Linked DNA regions of Homo sapiens: region 1 is linked to region 2. Evidence: fine-mapped expression QTL. A gene starts in region 2. The other region holds a variant in brackets. All regions are shown on one strand. Distances are from middle to middle.

The links.
Region 1: its variant is fine-mapped to the expression of GRAMD4 in whole blood (TOPMed, PIP above 0.99).

The regions. Positions count from the first base shown.
Region 1 is chr22:46,588,128-46,596,357 of GRCh38, forward strand. It overlaps a transcript of GRAMD4 not described here. Among named protein-coding and RNA genes, the nearest start is that of GRAMD4, 28 kb to the right of the region's middle. RefSeq lists silencers at 1-48, 5,376-5,435. The variant T/G (reference allele first, on the strand shown) is at 4,933.
Region 2 is chr22:46,616,458-46,624,835 of GRCh38, forward strand. It overlaps GRAMD4 (GRAM domain containing 4), which reads left to right and starts at 3,929. Exons shown (of 19, transcript NM_015124.5): 1 at 3,929-4,108. RefSeq lists enhancers at 1,961-2,728, 5,157-5,668.

The sequences.
Region 1 (8,230 bases), 28 kb before region 2:
TAAACCGGACATCTAGAGCTGTGACTCAGGATAGGCAGGCCCTGGGGGGTCACCCCCAGCCACCCCATCTGCTTTGAGAACCTAGGAGCATGGGAGAAGCCAGGTAACCCCAGTGACTGCCCAGCGTCCCCCACAACCCGATGGATGAGGAGCCAGTAGGTCAGGAGGGGCAGAGCTGAGGTCAGCACACCTCCGTCCCTGTCTGGCTGTCCGTCTTCCATCCCTCCAGGCAGCACCACGCAAGGGCAGGGAGGTGGCAGGCCTGCTGAGCTCTGTGGATGTGGGGCAGACCCGGCTGGCTTGTTGGAGCACCCTCCCCGGGCGAGTGCTGTTCATATTGGTATCTGCGGAGTGGGTCAAACCACTACAGAGGGCAAGAGGGGAGCTGTGGCCTCTGGCCAGCCACGTTCTAAGCTTTTACAAGGCCCCACCCTGTCCCTCGCAGTCTTAGCCATCAGCTGCCTTTGGAGAATGAGCGATCTGAAGATGTTCCTGGCTGGGGGGCAGGGGTGGCCAGTGCTCCTGGAGCTGCGGGGTGCCCACCCTTTCGTCCGTCCTCCTTCCCCGGCCTGATCCAGGAGCCCCAGCACCGCCCTCTCCATCCCCGGGGTCCTTAGGCTTCCCTGACACAGGTCTCAGGAGGGCATGTGACACTGGCGTCGGTCCGGGCTGGGCAGAGCCTGGATGTGGCCCAGGCTGGGCTGGGCTGGAGCCGAAGCCTTTCTTCTCAGGTCCTGTCATAGCTGTGGGGCCTGGGGCTGGTGACCCAGCCTCTGCCAGCGTCTCCCCACCCCCTCCCACAGTAAGGTTGGTGACAGCAGAGTTCTCTTAAACATTTGAGATGTCCTGTGCTGGCCCGTGGCAGTGCAACCACAGCTCGTAACTGTGGCGCTGGGCAGAGGGCTGGGTACGCAGCAGGTGCTTCGTCAGTACTGATGGGAGAAGCAGGGACGGCAGGGGGCGGGGGGACCTGGATGGGCGACACTCCCCAGCCTGCTGGTGCTCCAGGGAGGACCTTTTCAGAGCTGGGAGACCCTGGCTCAGTGTCCTTGTCCCTCCAGTCGCTGCTGCCTTCCCGAAAGCCCTGGAGCCTTGTTAAAGAGGGCAGCCCTGGCTCTTGGGGGGAGTCCTGGGTTTGGGGGCGGCTCTGATATGGGGGAGCCGTGGGTGTGGGGGCAGCTCTGATATGTGGGGGAGCCCTGGGTGTGGGGGCAGCTCTGATATGTGGGGGAGTCCTGGGTGTGGGGGCAGCTCTGATATGGGGGAGCCGTGGGTGTGAGGGCTGTGCCTCACGTGGCCCGAGGGCAGATGGCCCAGTGTGGGGCTGGGCTGTTTGGGGGGATGGGGAGGGCTGCCCAGGGAGAAGGTGAGTGGGTGGCCCTATTATCTGAAGACCTGCTGGGGCCAGGGGATGTGGGGGGTGGCTGCCACCTCTGCAGTGACCCTGGAAGGGCCCATGCTGCCCCTGCTTTGCAGGTGAGTAAGCGGGTGTCTGAGAGTTCCCAGCTCTGCCTGCAGGGCCCATGCCCTGTGGCTACCCCCCAGTCCCGCTCTGTTTGCTTTATTTAAGTATTTTGGAAGATCACTCCTCAGCCTCATGGGGTGGATCCTTAACTCTTCTGGCCCAGCCCACTCCTCAGGTTTCTAGGTGACCCACCTGCTTTGTGTGCACCCTGAGGCCTGCTGCACTGCCAGGACCTCAGCCCCTGCCCTGCTCCCCAGCAGCCTGACTGCCTCCCCTCCCTCAGCCCCTCAGAGAGGCCTCCTGTCAACACCCTTTCTGCAGCTTTCTCCCTACCCCTTCAGCCAGCTCCCCTCGTGGCCCTCCCTGCTGCCTGGTTCCTGCGGCATGTATTGGTGGGGAGGCCGTGTCGCCTCCTGTAACTCCCACGGCAGTCTTGCAGGATGGGTCCTGGCCTGGTTGGGAGCCCTGAGTCTGGTTGATTCCTGCCTACTGTTGGCCCGGGTGGGCAGAGCCGTGGCAGTCAGGAGAGCCTTGGCCTGGGGGGCCAGAGCCCTGCCCCCACATCTACACCAGCTACTGGGCCGCCTGGACAGCCCTGTGCCCTGCGTGCCTCCTGCGTCCAGAGGGGCGGAGCTGGGAGTCTGACTGTGACAGCTCTGGGGCCACATGGATGGCCCTCGGCCTGATTCCTCTTGGTGGGAGGCTTTGATTGGGAAGCTGGGGGAAGGTGGCTAGTGGGTGGGGTTCGGGAGTACTGGGGACCTCTCCCAGTGTCCTTCCTCCAGCCAGTCCTTGGCAGAGAGCTGAGAAGGTGCCGGGGATGGGTGAGCGCTCCACTAACCCCGAGGGCTGGGATTGGCCAGGAGCGCGTCCCAAGGAGGAGGTGACCTGGGCCACTGTGTGTGTGACCAGGCCTGGGCTGCTGCCGTTAACACCCAGTCAGCTGGTGTCTGCCTGTTGCTCGTGACTGGCCTGGTTTGGTGGCCTGGTAGAGGGGAATGGGAGGGGAGAAACCCGGGCTGGGCCCAGGTGAGTGTCAACAGGGGAGGGAGAGAGCAGCAGAGGTCCCGCCAGGGCGTGCTTGGGTGAGGGGAGGAGGAGCTCAGAGAGATTGGGGGAGAGTCCACAGTGTTGTCTGAGGACAGCTAAGGACGATGGACACTACTAGTTTATAAAAACAGCCAGAGGCCGGGCACACTGGCTCATGCCTGTAATCCCAACACTTTGGGAGGCCGAGGCAGGTGGATTGTCTGTGGTCGGGAGTCTGAGACCAGCCTGGCCAAGATGGTGAAACTCTGTCTCTACTAAAAATACAAAAATTAGCCAGCATGGTGGTGGGTGCCTGTAATCCCAGCTACTCAGGAGGCTGTGGGATGAAAATTGCACGAACCTGGGAGGCGGAGATTGCAGTAAGCCAAGATCGTGCCACCGGACTCCAGCCTGGGTGATAGAGCAAGACTCTGTCTAAAAAGAAAAAGAAAAAAAAACAAACAAACCCAAAAAACAGCCAGAGAAGGCAAGAGCCCTGGAATGGCCTAAGGTGGGAAACTGCTGCCCTCTCAGCCGCGGGGTCCAGTGTGTGATAGTGAAATCTCTCGTTATCTTAAATTCTCTCTTCAGGGACTTAAACAGAAATTAACAGGGCTGGGTGCAGTGGCTCATGCCTGTAGTCCCAGCACTTTGAGAGGCTGAGAGGGGGAGGATTGCGTGAGCTCAGGAGTTTGAGAACGGCCTGGGCAACATAGTGAGACTCCATCTCTACTAAAAATAAAAAATTAGCTGGGTGTGGTGGTGCATGTCGTAGTCCCAGCTCCTTGGGAGGCTGAGGTGGGAGTTGGGGTTTGTTGTTTTGGACAGATTTACCAAATTCATTTGGACGACGTTACTGAAGCTCCATGAGGCAGAGGCTAACGGACATTGCTGAAGTCCTAGGTTGCATCCCTCATAAAGGCCACCCCCGGGCCGTGCACGGTGCCTCACGCCTGTAATCCCAGCACTTTGGGAGGCTGAGGCAGGTGGAATACCAGAGGTCAGTAGTTGGAGACCAGTCTGGCCAACATGGCAAAACCCTGTCTCTACTAAAAATAAAAATTAGCCGGGTGTGGTGGTGGGTGCCTGTAATCCCAGCTACTCTGGAGGTTGAGGCACGAGAATCGTTTGAACTCGGGAGACGGAGGTTGCAGTGAGCCAAGATCAAGCCACTGCACTCCAGCCTGGGTGACAGAGCGAGACTCTGTCTCAAAAAAAAAAAAAAAAAAAACCCAGAAAGGCCAACCCCCGCACCCCTCAGCCCCCGCACCCCTCAGTTAGCCATGCCCAGGGACAGTCAGAAAGCATCTGTGATATCAGTGGACATTGGGGCCCAGCCCAGGACTGGTGTGTCCCCTCCTGTGCCTGCAGGCTTGACACAGCAAGGCCCTCCCTCTCGCCCCCAAGTCCCCACACTTGTCAAGGGCATCACGGCACATTCCAGGAAAGTTGGTTGATGTCACGGGAGTCGAGACCTCATCCTGACGCCCAGCTCAGCAGGGCCACCGGGGCTCAGGTTAGGTGGTGCCATAGTTGGGGGACAGTCCCCATAGGGTTGCGCCCCCAGAGTGCCCTAGGGAATGAGGCCCACTGCTACTGCCACCAGCCCAGCTGGCATAATTGATAAATAAGTGTGGTTCTTTTAAGTTGGGCAAGTGTGTATTTTTAAATAACTGACTGCTTAATTGTACGATTAAAAACAGCAGAGCTGGGTGCAGGGGTGCGTGTCTGTGGTCCCAGCTCCTTGGGAGGCTAAGGCGGGAGGATCCATAGAGCCCAGGAGTTTGAAGCCAGCCTGGGAAACATAGGGAGGAGGCCCTGTTTCCAAAAAAAAAAAAAAGGATGAAGTGGGCTGTTAGCACTGAGTCATGGCGAGCAAGGTGAAGAAGCCCCACTGTGGCTGTGTGGTGAACTCAGTCATTCACAGCCGGGAGGGGCTCGATTCAGTTACTTTCCTGAATGTTTTCACTGTTCCGACTGCACCAGGGAGGAACCACATCCTCTACGCCTGCAGAAGCAAAATTTCTCTCCCGAGAGTCTTGGAATTCTGCGGCCCACATGTATGGTGACCAGCTCTGCAAGGGGCTTTAAAAACCCCAGTGTCGGCTGATTTGTTGGCTGACACCGCGCCCGGCACCTCCAGGATGTGGCCGGCATCGTGGAGGGGCTGCTGGCTGCCTGCCTTGCTTTCAGTTCCACATGGAGACAATGACTCTGCTGCACTGAGTTTCAAGAATTTTGGCAATAAAAAGAGCCTATATGACCTATTTATGAAGTATTCCAGAATCACTTACATGAATATTTTGTCCTAAATTCTGTATAATTAGAAGATATAAACCCCACATTGTGATTATTTTTGTTCACCAACATAACCTAAATTAGAACTCTCCATGCGGGCTTTCAGAAAAGAAAGCATTTGAACAAAAACATAAAAGGAA[T/G]TGGTTTTATCCACACCGTTCTCAAATACTTGAGAGTAACGTGTTTGCTTAAGTAACATCGATATCTTGTTTACTGTTATTTGATTTGCAGACCTTTCCTCTTTACCAGTACCAGTAGCAGAAAGGTAAATTGTACTGAAACGTTTAAAAAGTCGTAAGTTCTGACTTTGAGGCCTGATGAACCATCACGGGATTCTCCCCTGCCTGGTTCCTTTTCCCCGGAACCTCACATCAAGCAGAAGCTTCCTTGCGGGCGGCCCTTGTTGCAGGCGGTCTTGGCGAGAGACATCCCCATTTCTGCAGCTGGACGGTGAAAGGGACGTTGTTGTTCTTGGCCATTTGGCAGGTGTTCTCTGACTGCCTCTTCTCCGCTGGGCCTGCCGCACAGGGAGGGCAGGTGGGACCGCCCCCCAACCCCTGCCGCAGGGCCTACCGAGAGTCCCATGGCGGGCGGGCAGAGGTGGGCTAGTGTTGCATTAAGTGACTTCCCGTAGCAGGCTGTTCAGTGCTGGGGCAGCCTTCTAAGGGAGGAGGCTTGTGGGCTGAGACCTCTTCCCTTTTTCATCATTTGGGCTTCCGGGGCATAGAATGGGATGCGTCATTGGCCTGGGGTCTGTGCTGCTGTTGGGCGTCTGTGCATAGTCCTCTTTTGTCTATTTTCATTATTTTTATTTATTTTTTTGAGATGGAGTCTTGCTCAGTCACCCAGGCTGGAGTGCAGTGGCGCGATCTCAGCTCACTGCAACCTCTGCCTCCTGGGTTCAAGTAATTCTCCTGCTTCAGCCTCCCAAGTAGCTGGGATTACAGGCGTGCACCACCACCCTGGGCTAATTTTTGTATTTTTTTAGTAGAGATGGGGTTTCATCATGTTGGCAGGATAGTCTTGAACTCCTGACCTCAGGTGATCTGCCCGCCTCGGCCTCCCAAAGTGCTAGGATTATAGGCGTGAGCCACCTCACCCAGCCATATTTTCGTTATTTTTAATAATGTAATGGGAACCTCTGGGCTCACCGTCAAGCAGAAGCCAGCCTTGATACCCAGCATCCTGCCAGCCCCTCCCCAGCATCCTGCCAGCCCCACCCCAGCATCCCGCCAGCCCCTCCCCAGCTGCCCCACGCCCGGCTCCTGCCCCAGCTCTGTGTGTCCTGTGCTCTCCCTTCCCCACCACCCTATGCACACCTTTCTCTGCCTGGGTCCACACTGTCACCTGCTGTAGCTCTACCCACAGGCCATACCTGCCTGGTGGGCCCCTCCTCCCTGCCCCTGTTTTTGTGGAAGGACAGGTGGAAGTGGGCGGGTGGGGTGGGTATGGTGGGTGATGATAAAGAGCATTCTAGGCCAGGGCAGGAATGCAAGCACATGGGTGTGAGGGGCCAGGTGTGTTCAGGGATCCTTGGCACTTGTGGGGTGGCGGGAGCACTGGCCAGAGGAGGGCTGGGGTAGGGGGAGGCTCCTGGCCCTCTGGGGGGCCCTTGGTAGAGGAAGGGGCATTGCTTGTGTGGGTGGTGAGGGACCTCTGGTTGGGTGGGGGGGGTTAGGTGTTTTAGGAGGCTTTGGGTACAGAGATGTCCAGGGGTAAAGTGGAGCTTGGTCTCAGGACAGTTGGCCCTGGCATCTGTCCTGCCCTGGGGGGCTAGGAGGGCCGGACTGGAGATGGAGGCTGGGGCTGTCCTGGTCCCAGGTGAGGTGGCATCTCCTAGGAGGGAGGAGAGGGTTGGTGCCCTGCAAACCCTGGGGGAGGGGCAGCACGGGGAGCTGGGGTTGGGGGTGAGGAGGGGCGCCCCACATGTTCTGAAGCGCTCTGGAGTGGCTCCAGCCCGGCCAGCACTAAGTTTTGCTGTCTGTGGTTTGCTGTGCCTGTGTCCGCTGCTGGTAACCAGTGCATCGGGACTTGGGCTTTCTGACTGCACCAGGTTTGTTTCTGCTGCTCTGAGTGCGGTGCCCAGTCACCGAGGTACCTGTCGTTCCCGCCTCCTGTGGACTGCGTGGCCTGGCGTCGAGGCAAAGCAGCAGGAAAGTTGGGTCCGCATCCCAGCCCCACATGCGGCCCGGGGGGAGAGTGTGCCTTTCCCCTGGAGACACACAGGGTGGGGGAAGTGAAGTCAGTGGCAGGCACCCAAGAGGGGCACGTTTTCAATCCCAGGGTGGGCGTGGGTACTAACTACAGGTAGAGACCATGCGACGCAGCGGGTCTGCACGCCTCAGGGTTCTGGAACAATCCAGACGGGGACATGGGGGAGATTGGCCACTGGGACTGGTGTTTCACTTGGCTGCCTCTGGACATAGTGTCTCTTCCGACTTTATTTTCCTGGGTTGTGAATCTCCCTTTTATGCCACAAAGGTCCCCCACCCAAGGGACTCTCATCCTGCAGCCCATGGGCCTGGCCCTGTGTCTGGAAAGGGGAGGTGGCGCCCTGATGTTCTGGGCCTGGTGGTCAGTATGGGCACAGAGGTGCAGGGGTAGAGGATTCCACATTTTGAGAGAAAAACAGGCGCCCCTCAAGGCAGCTCAGCCCTAGGTGAGGTTGGCTTTGGGCACACCCATGGGAGGCCCCTCTTCCTGCCCTGAACCCTCTGAGCGTCACCCCTCCCACCCAGCCACCAGAACAGCCTTTCCAGCTGCCCCTCCAAGTCATCGCAGGGACCCCTGCGGCCGGTCAGGGGGCCAAGATGGGGACACCCAGAGAACCACAAGCCCAGGCCACACAGGCAGGTGACTGCATGGGCAGGTGAGCACCCCATCTGACAGGTGCCAGGGTGAAACACGACTTGTCCAGATCCCCGGCCTTAACACCCAGTGCTGTTTCTGTACCCTGGCCACCTTCCCAGCTTACCCAGGGAGGCTGAGGAGTGGGTGCACAGGAGGAGTGGGAGCTGGCCGAGGGGCTTGCAGAGGGTCAGAAAGAATCTGCTATCCTGGTGGGACAAGCACCCAGACCCTGGATGCTCTCCGTGCTGGAAGCGTTGCTTCAGTGCATTAGGATGGGTTCACTTTCTCGTAATTCACTCTGAGGACACGTTGTTGGAATCATTGTGCATAGTTCTGGATCAGCACCATGACGGGAGGTCAGAGGGCTGCCTGGCGCAGTTTCTCTGCTGCCTGGATTGACCATGAGGACAAGGACTAGCTGTGCCCAGCCCCCTGCTTCCCGTGGATAGGGACTCTGGCTGCTGGCTCGTGCCATCGGGGCTGGAGTCTTAACTGGTGAAATCACATTTATGAGGCTGATAGCCATCAGTTTCCACAGACGTAAGTGTGGCCAGGATGACAGATGTCCCTGGCGGCCCTTTCTGCAGG
Region 2 (8,378 bases):
CCGTGTGTAGGTTCCCCTGTGCGTGTCGGTTCCCCCGTGTGTAGGTTCCCCCAAGCGTGTAGGTTCCCCCTTGTGTAGGTTCCCCCGTGTGTGCAGGTTCCCCTGTGTGTGCGGCTTCCCCTGTGCGTGCAGGTTCCCCTGTGTGTAGGTTCCCCTGTGTGTGTAGGTTCCCCTGTGTGTACGTTCCCCTGTGTGTACGTTCCCCTGTGTGTAGGTTCCCCTGTGCGTGTAGGTTCCCCTGTGCGTGTAGGTTCCCCCGTGCGTGTAGGTTCCCCCGTGTGTGCAGGTTCCCCTGTGTGTGTGGCTTCCCCTGTGCGTGCAGGTTCCCCTGTGTGTAGGTTCCCCTGTGTGTGTAGGTTCCCCTGTGTGTACGTTCCCCTGTGTGTACGTTCCCCTGTGTGTAGGTTCCCCCGTGTGTAGGTTCCCCTGTGCGTGTAGTTTCCCCCGTGTGTAGGTTCCCCTGTGCGTATAGGTTCCCCTGTGCGTGTAGGTTCCCCCGTGTGTAGGTTCCCCTGTGCGTGTAGGTTCCCCCGTGTGTAGGTTCCCCTGTGCGTGTGGGTTCCCCCGTGTGTAGGTTCCCCTGTGCGTGTGGGTTCCCCCGTGTGTAGGTTCCCCTGTGCGTGTGGGTTCCCCCATGTGTAAGTTCCCCTGTCCGTGTAGGTTCCCCCATGTGTAGGTTCCCCTGTGTGTGTAGGTTCCCCCGTGTGTAGGTTCCCCTGTGCGTGTAGGTTCCTCCGTGTGTAGGTTCCCCTGTGCGTGTGGGTTCCCCCATGTGTAAGTTCCCCAGTGTGTAGGTTCCCCTGTGCTTGTGGGTTCCCCCGTGTGTAGGTTCTGCTGTGCATGTAGGTTCCCCTGTGTGTACGTTCCCCTAAGCATGTAGGTTCCCCCGTGTGTAGGTTCTCCCATGTGTGCGGGTTCCCCTGTGTGTGCAGCTTCCCCTGTGCTTGCAGGTTCCCCTGTGTGTAGGTTCCCCTGGGTGTAGGTTCCCCCCATACGTGTAGGTTCCCCTGTGTGTAGGTTCCCCTGTGCGTGTAGGTTTCCCCGTGTGTAGGTTCCCTTGTGCGTGTAGGTTCCCTTGTGCGTGTAGGTTCCTCTGTGTTGGGTCCTTAAACATTAACCAGCTCCTTCCTCCCCAGGCCTGGGCAGGATCCCAGCACACAGAGGAAGAAGCGGAGACTCACGTAGGCATCTCCTGGCCCTCCCAGTCTTCCTGACTGTCTCTCCTGGGCCACGCTGGCAAGTGGCCCCAGAGCGGGCCATACACCGTGCTGGCATTAGCACCCCAGGGTGTGCTTAGCCCTGGGCCCGCTCCCTGGCCCCCCTGGGTGGCTTCCCTGTCACAGTGCAGAAGGCTCAGCTCCCCACATGGGGTTCCAGCCTGACCCTCGTATGACTCAAGCCTGAAGATACTTTGCCAAGGGAAGGAATTCAGGTTTCTTCCTGGAGAAACATCCCAGATCACTGAAGGCTTGTAGTTAAAAGTTTTTGTGTATTCAGGGACGCTGTGCTTTGGCAGGGCCCAAGGCAGAGTCCATGGGTGTCCCTAGTCCATGGGTGTCCCTTTCTCTTGAGGCCTCTGGCAGAGGAAAGAAAGCTCAGCTGGTGGCTGCGGGCTCAGGCTGGCGGGGACCCCCCAGCCGTGGCATCTGGGCTGCCTTTGTGTGTCGCTCCCTCACTCTCTGAACAAGTGTTTGTCACTGCCCACCACGTGCCAAGCTCTGCAGAGGGAGACTCGGGTGCCTGCAGCTCGAGTCCACCTGAGCATCACCGGCAGAGCCGAGCCCCTGGAGACTTAGCCAGACACAGCCCCTGCCCCGGGGGAGCACCAGGCGGGTTCTAACCAAGCAGGACTGGAGGCACAAGCGCTAAACAAGGAAGCCATCAGGGCAATCCAAGGACCCCACGTCAAACCAAACAGGATGGTGGAATGACAGCGGGCGGCGCCTAGGGAATGGGGCAAATGAGCGACGTCCCGGAGCCAAACGTGTCGGGCCCTGCAGTGGGGACAGAGGCGGTGGTCGGAGGGTTGCAAAGGGGGTCGGCAGAGCTGCAGCCAAGCCTAGATGAGCCAGAGCTGATGAGGGTGTCGGGGGAGCAGCCGTGTTGACCCGGGTGCGTGGAAGCCCCTGGAGAACTTTGGCAGGGGCGCTGCAGAGGCTGATTTTGCCTTTGAAGGCCTCACCATGCTTGCCATGTGGAGAAGGCTTCGGGAGGCACGCGGCTGCCTGGACCAGGCTGGGGTGGTGGGGAGAGGGGAGGCACGCGGCTGCCTGGACCAGGCTGGGGTCGTGGGGAGAGGTGGACAGATGTGCAGCCCCGTCTGGAGGCGTGCGGCCGGCGTGCGCTGCAGGTTGGCAGTGGAGTGAGGAACGGGGCTATCAAGGGCTCTTGAGGGTTTCACCCAGACAGCTGGTGGACACGGTGCCATCCAGTCAGAGTGCCCCTTGAGACCCGAGTCTGTGCCAGGCGTGGCATAGTTGAGATACTGGTGAGCTGTCCGGCTTGGAGCCTGCAGGGAGGCCAGGTCAGGGGGCAGGGTTGAGAGCAGCCAAACACCCGGATACGGACATCAGCATTTGAGGCCGCCTGACTGTGCCCAGCTGGCAGGACTGAGGCCTGAATCCAGGGAGGGGATGAAACTCCTGGACAAGCCTTGAGTTTGGGGCAGCACACATGTCATCAGTTGTGAGCCGACCTCTTGAGGCTGATGTTGGAACAATAGTGGCCAAGGTCGGGCACGGGCTGGAAGGGCAGGATCTGCAGTCTCAGGACCCCAGAGGGCCCAGGGAGCTGTGTGTGTGCTGGGTCCTTGGGCCTCTTTGCATCAGGAGTTAGGGAGGTGCAAGTATGTGGCTGTAAGCATGGGGACATTGGGGTGGATGTTTTTGTTTTGTTCTTAGAGACAAGGTCTGGCCCTCACCCAGGCTGGAGTGCAGTGGTACGATCGTGGTTCACCGCAGCCTCAAACTCCCAGGTTCCCAGGCGATCCTCCTGCCTCAACCTTCTGAGCAACTGGGACTGTAGGCACGTACCACCACGCTGGCTCATGTTCTTATTTCACTTTCTGTGTCACTGCATTGCCCACCTCAGCCTCTCAAAGTGCTGGGATTACAGGCCTGAGCCCTGGTGCCTGGCTGGCGATGGGGTATTGGTAGAACCAGGCCTTCTTTGCTGGCCGCCCCCGGTCCTCCTGTTCACTCTGCAAAGCCCTGGAGTCTGCCAGCTGCCCCATCCTCACGTCCTCTTCAGCTGCCCAGGTTGGCTGTCCAGCTGCTGGTCTAACCTCCATCCAGGCCTTTCTGACAGTGAGGTTTAGGGGCTACCTTCCCTAGAGGACTGAGACTTGGAGGAGGGCCAGGTGGGGGCTGGGGCCCACTGCAGTGGGGGTGGGGGAGGTGTGTCTGTGTCGCTCAACATCTGCGAGTCCCCCAGGGACATTGCTTAGGAGGGCTGGCGGCTGTGGGAAAGCGGATGCTGTTTATCCCAGGATCAGCAGGAGAGCCGCCAGATAATAAGGGGATGAAGGGCGTGCCAGCAGCCGGGCCCTGATGTGGAGGTCAGCTGTGATCCAGGGACCCAGAACTCGGAGAGGAACTTTAGCAGGGGAGATGGTGTGAAGGAGACACGGCTCAGGGCAAGCGCCAGAGACCAGGAACCACTTTTTTTTTTTTAAATCTTGGGCTGGGGAAGGGGAAATAAAGTCCTTTGCGGTTTCTGAGTCCAGGGTTCCCTAGACACTGTTGCCTTTGTGTGTCCAGAAGCAATTCAGCGGTTTCCAGAGCAGCATGCTTTTGTGTTCCAGGGCTGGCTGGCCCAATTCCGTCCTGCTTGCAGAGAGGGCCTGGAGCCTGGCCGGGCGCCGCCCTGAGCCTGGGGGATCCTGGGAGAACCTGGACAGCCGTGGTGAGCCCTGCTGCCCTGCTCTGGTGCACAGGACTGGAGTCCTCCAGGCTCCAGGGCAGCAGACACCACCCTCTCCGTGCCTGCTGGTGTTGGGCGGCTTGGAGGCTATGGTTCCTGGGTCCTCGTAGCACATCCTGGTTCTGGGCCAGGACCTGAAGGAGCCACAGTGAAAGAGTGTTTCTGGATGTATCTGAGACAGACGGAGGTAGGGGGCAGGGGGCAGGGGGCAGGGGGACATGGTAGGGCCCATCTGAGTGGAAGCCCCAGCCTTGGGAAAAGCTGCTACTCTCTGGGGCAGTGGTCCCAGCTACCACGTGCTCTTCTGGAGCCATCTTGATCTTGAAAGGCAGGCTCCCTCCCAAGGCCGGGTGCAGGCCAGACCCCACCGGTAAAGCACCTGCGCAGCCCGGGGCCAGGGGTCCAGTGAGGAAGGGTGGAGGCCTCCTGAGAACCTGGCCTGGTCAGGAGGGCCGGCAAGAGGAGGAGCCTCCCAGGAAGCCCCTCAGAACCTGACAGGACGAGAGGAAGGGAGGCCGATCTGAGAGGGAGGGAGGCCCATCCGAGAGGGAGGAGGCCGATCTGAGAGGGCCGCATGGCTCGGAGTTGCAGGGGCCCTGGGCTGCCAGGGGTGGGCCTGTAGGTGCAGGTGGAGGGGCTGGTCCTGGGGAGAGCGGCTGGGCTGCAGGCTGAGGAGCTGGGCTTCCTCCAGGGACCGTGGAGGGGGTGGGGATGGGCAGCTAGAAGTGGGGAGGGCAGGGGCCGTCTGGTTGGGGATGCGCGGCTGCAGCACGCAGGACGGAAGGTGCAGGTGAGACGCAGGTGGGCGGTGTCGGGAGACCCGGGTCTGGCCTGAGGTGCAGCCTGGAGCTATGCTCAGTGTGTAGACGGGCCTTGGTTCCTGCATCTGTAAGTTGGGCGTGTGCTGGGTAATAGTGTCCTCCCCCAAAATTCATGTCCACCTCGTACCTGTGGACCCGACCTTACTTGGAAATGGCTCTTTGCAGATGTCACTGAGATGAAGTCACCCTGGTGTACAGTGGAGCACTCTTCAGTGCAGTGCGGGGGCTGCCCATGTGGCCGTGGAGGGCACCCCTACCCCGGTGCAGGCGCAGGCTGGAGGCGTAGCCCGGGCCCATCCCTGGCGGTGTGTCGCGGAGGGCACCCCTACCCCGGTGCAGGCGCAGGCTGGAGGCGTAGCCCGGGCCCATCCCTGGCGGTGTGTCGCGGAGGGCACCCCTACCCCGGTGCAGGCGCAGGCTGGAGGCGTAGCCCGGGCCCATCCCTGGCAGTGTGTCGCGGAGGGCACCCCTACCCCGGTGCAGGCACAGGCTGGAGGCGTAGCCCGGGCCCGTCCCTGGCGCTGTGTCGCGGAGGGCACCCCTACCCCGGTGCAGGCGCAGGCTGGAAGTGTAGCCCGGGCCCATCCCTGGTGGTGAAGGCTGGAAGGTCCATCCCTGGCAGTGTGTGGTGACATGTGTCGTGACATGGAGTTTGATTCTTAACTGACCGAAGCTTGAAAAGTCTGTCTTTTTGATGGACCCAGGGAGTTGGGTGAGGAGGGTGGTGGAGTCAGTGGGGCTGAGAGCAGGGTCGTCTAGGACCCTGATGTGTGGACGCCCTCCCCAAGGGCCGCTGTGAACCATCCAGCAGGATGACCCTGGGTTTGGGGCTGAGCCGGTGGCTGGGAGAGCAGACTGAGGAGTAGCTGGACACTGGCGGGGCACGCATTGCATTCTGATGGTGACAGGCGGGACACTCAGGGCCTTTGTCCCCTCTCTCATTGCCTCATTTGCTTGCCTGAGGTGATTGGGAAGGCAGCCCTGGCCTCGGAATTACAGCCTCCCAGACAAGGGGGCTGTCCTCTGCCCAGAGCCCTGCAGGCAGCCAAGAGTTCTGTGCGTGTCCAAGCGTGTCCCCTGCTTTCCTTGGGTGGAGGCCAGCTCGGTGCCCTACACAGGGCCTGCAGGCCCCAGCGCCCGGGTCATCCCCTCCGCTTCCCTCTCAGCTGCCGCAACCAGGAGGACTCGCCGGGTTTTTGAAAATGGAAGGAAGTAGGTTTTACATTGCTACACTTCCCCTAGCCCGTTCATCCTTCCTTTTTAAACATTAAAAAGCAGTAAAAATGGTGGTTACCGGGGGCTTGGGGAGGGCATGGGAGTTCCTATTCAGTGAGCAGAGTTTCAGTTAGACAAGACGAGTCCGGAGGCAGCCGCTCAGCATCACAGATGTAATTTATGCCACGGAGCTGCACGCTAAAAACTGGTGAAGTTGGGCTGAGCACGGCGGCTCACGCCTGTAATCCCAGCACTTTGGGAGGCCGAGGCGGGTGGATCACGAGGTCAGGAGATTGAGACCATCCTGGCTAACATGGCGAAACTCCGTCTCTACTAAAAATACAAAAAATTAGCTGGTGTGGTGGCGGGTGCCTGTAGTCCCAGCTACTCGGGAGGCTGAGGCAGGAGAATGGCGTGAACCCAGGAGGCGGATCTTGCAGTGAGCCGAGATCACGCCACTGCACTCCAGCCTGGGCGACAGAGCAAGACTCCATCTCTAAAAAAAAAAAAAAAAAAACTGATGAAATTGGTAATATTTATATTATGTGTGTTTTACCGTAATTAAAAAATATTGTGGGAAAAGAAGTAATAGGGAGGCATTTTAGGAGATTTGGAGAGAGAATTGTTAACGACCACCGTAAGCCCATACTCCCGACGTCTGGCCCCATAGCGCCCGAGTCTCTTCACGCACCTGTTTGCCATAACGACAGTCACAGGAAGGTCCCGGTTTTAGTTGCCTTCATCCCTTTACAAGGACGGGGTCCTGTGTGGGTCCACCAGGGTGCTCCAGGACCCCCTGCCCTGCTGGTCTTGATGGATGGTGTGTGACGTGTTTCCCCCCACCAGGCCTCCACTTCTTGAGCTTGGTCCTAGGGTCCTGGTACTGAGTTGTGGGGTGGCCGGTTGAGGGGGCGTCTGTGTGCTTGCTCTGCCGCATTCCGCAGCCCGGGTTAGCTTTAGTTTCCTTTCTTTATTTTATTTTATTTTTTTTGACACAGAGTCTCACGCTGCCCCCCAGGCTGCAGTGCAGTGGTGCAGTCTCGGCTCATTGCAAGCTCCGCCTCCCGGGTTCATGCCATTCTCCTGCCTCAGCCTCCTGAGTAGCTGGGACGCTTGGACTACAGGTGCCCGCCACCTTGCCTGGCTGACTTTTTTGTATTTTTAGTAGAGATGCAGTTTCACCGTGTTAGCCAGGATGGTCTCGATGTCCTGACCTCGTGATCCGCCCGCCCCGGCCTCCCAAAGTGCTGAGATTACAGGCATGAGCCACCATGCCCGGCCTAGTTTCCTTTCTAGTGAGCTTGAAGGTTTTCGCGTATTAGGAAGTGGTCTTGTCATTTTTGCTACATTGACTACATTGTCAAGCTGCCTTTTTTTTTTTTTTTTAAACAGAGTCTTGCTCTGTTGCCCAGGCTGGAGTGCAGTGGCGTGATCTCGGCTCACTGCAACCTCCACCTCCCGGGTTCAAGCAATTCTCCTGCCTCACTCTTCCAAGTAGCTGGGATTGTAGGCGCACATCACCTCGCCCAGCTAATTTTTGTATTTTAAGCAGAGATGGAGGTTCGCCATGTTGACCAGGCTGGTCTCAGACTCCTGACCTCAAGTGATCCACTCACCTCGGCCTCACAAAATGCTGGGATTACAGGTGCCAGCCACCGCACCTGGCCTAGTCAAGTTGTCTTGTAACATGGATATTAATCCTTCATGTATCATATTTGTTACCTGTATTCCTTGTTTTATAGCGTATTTTGACATTTTTTACTTTCTTTTTACAAATGAGAGCTTTTTACTTTTGCCTGGTGGCCTGTTAGACATTTTTACTTAGTGGCTTTTTTTTTTTCAGTCCCTTAATATAGACTCTTCCATCTTCTTCTCTCTAGGGATTTCATAGCTACTAAGTTCCCTCTTCCTTTTTTTTTTTTTTTTTTTTTTTTTCTGAGACGGAGTCTCACTGCCCAGGCTGGAGTGCAATAGTGTGATCTTGGCTCACTGCAAGCTCCGCCTCCCGGGTTCAAGCAATTCCTCTGCCTCCGTCTCCTGAGTAGCTGGGACTACAGGTGCCCGCCACCACACCCAGCTAATTTTTGTATTTTTAGTAGAGACAGGGTTTCACCATGTTGGCCAGATGGTCTCGAACTCCTGCCCTCGTGATCCGCCTACCTTGGCCTCCCAAAGTGCTGGGATTACAGGCGTGAACCACTGCTCCCAGCTGTTCTCTTTTCTTTTAAGGTTTGTGTGTTTTTAAATTGACTGAACCTTTAGTCCCTCTGCAATTTGTAGCTCCTATATGGGAAGCTTTTCCAAATGGCTGGCTCATGCTCCCTCAGCCTATGAGCAGCAGTTGCTACCTCCCCATCACCCACATCCCCCTCCTGGGGTCCTCCCAGCTTCCAGGGGATGCTGGGCATCAGGACAGCTCCC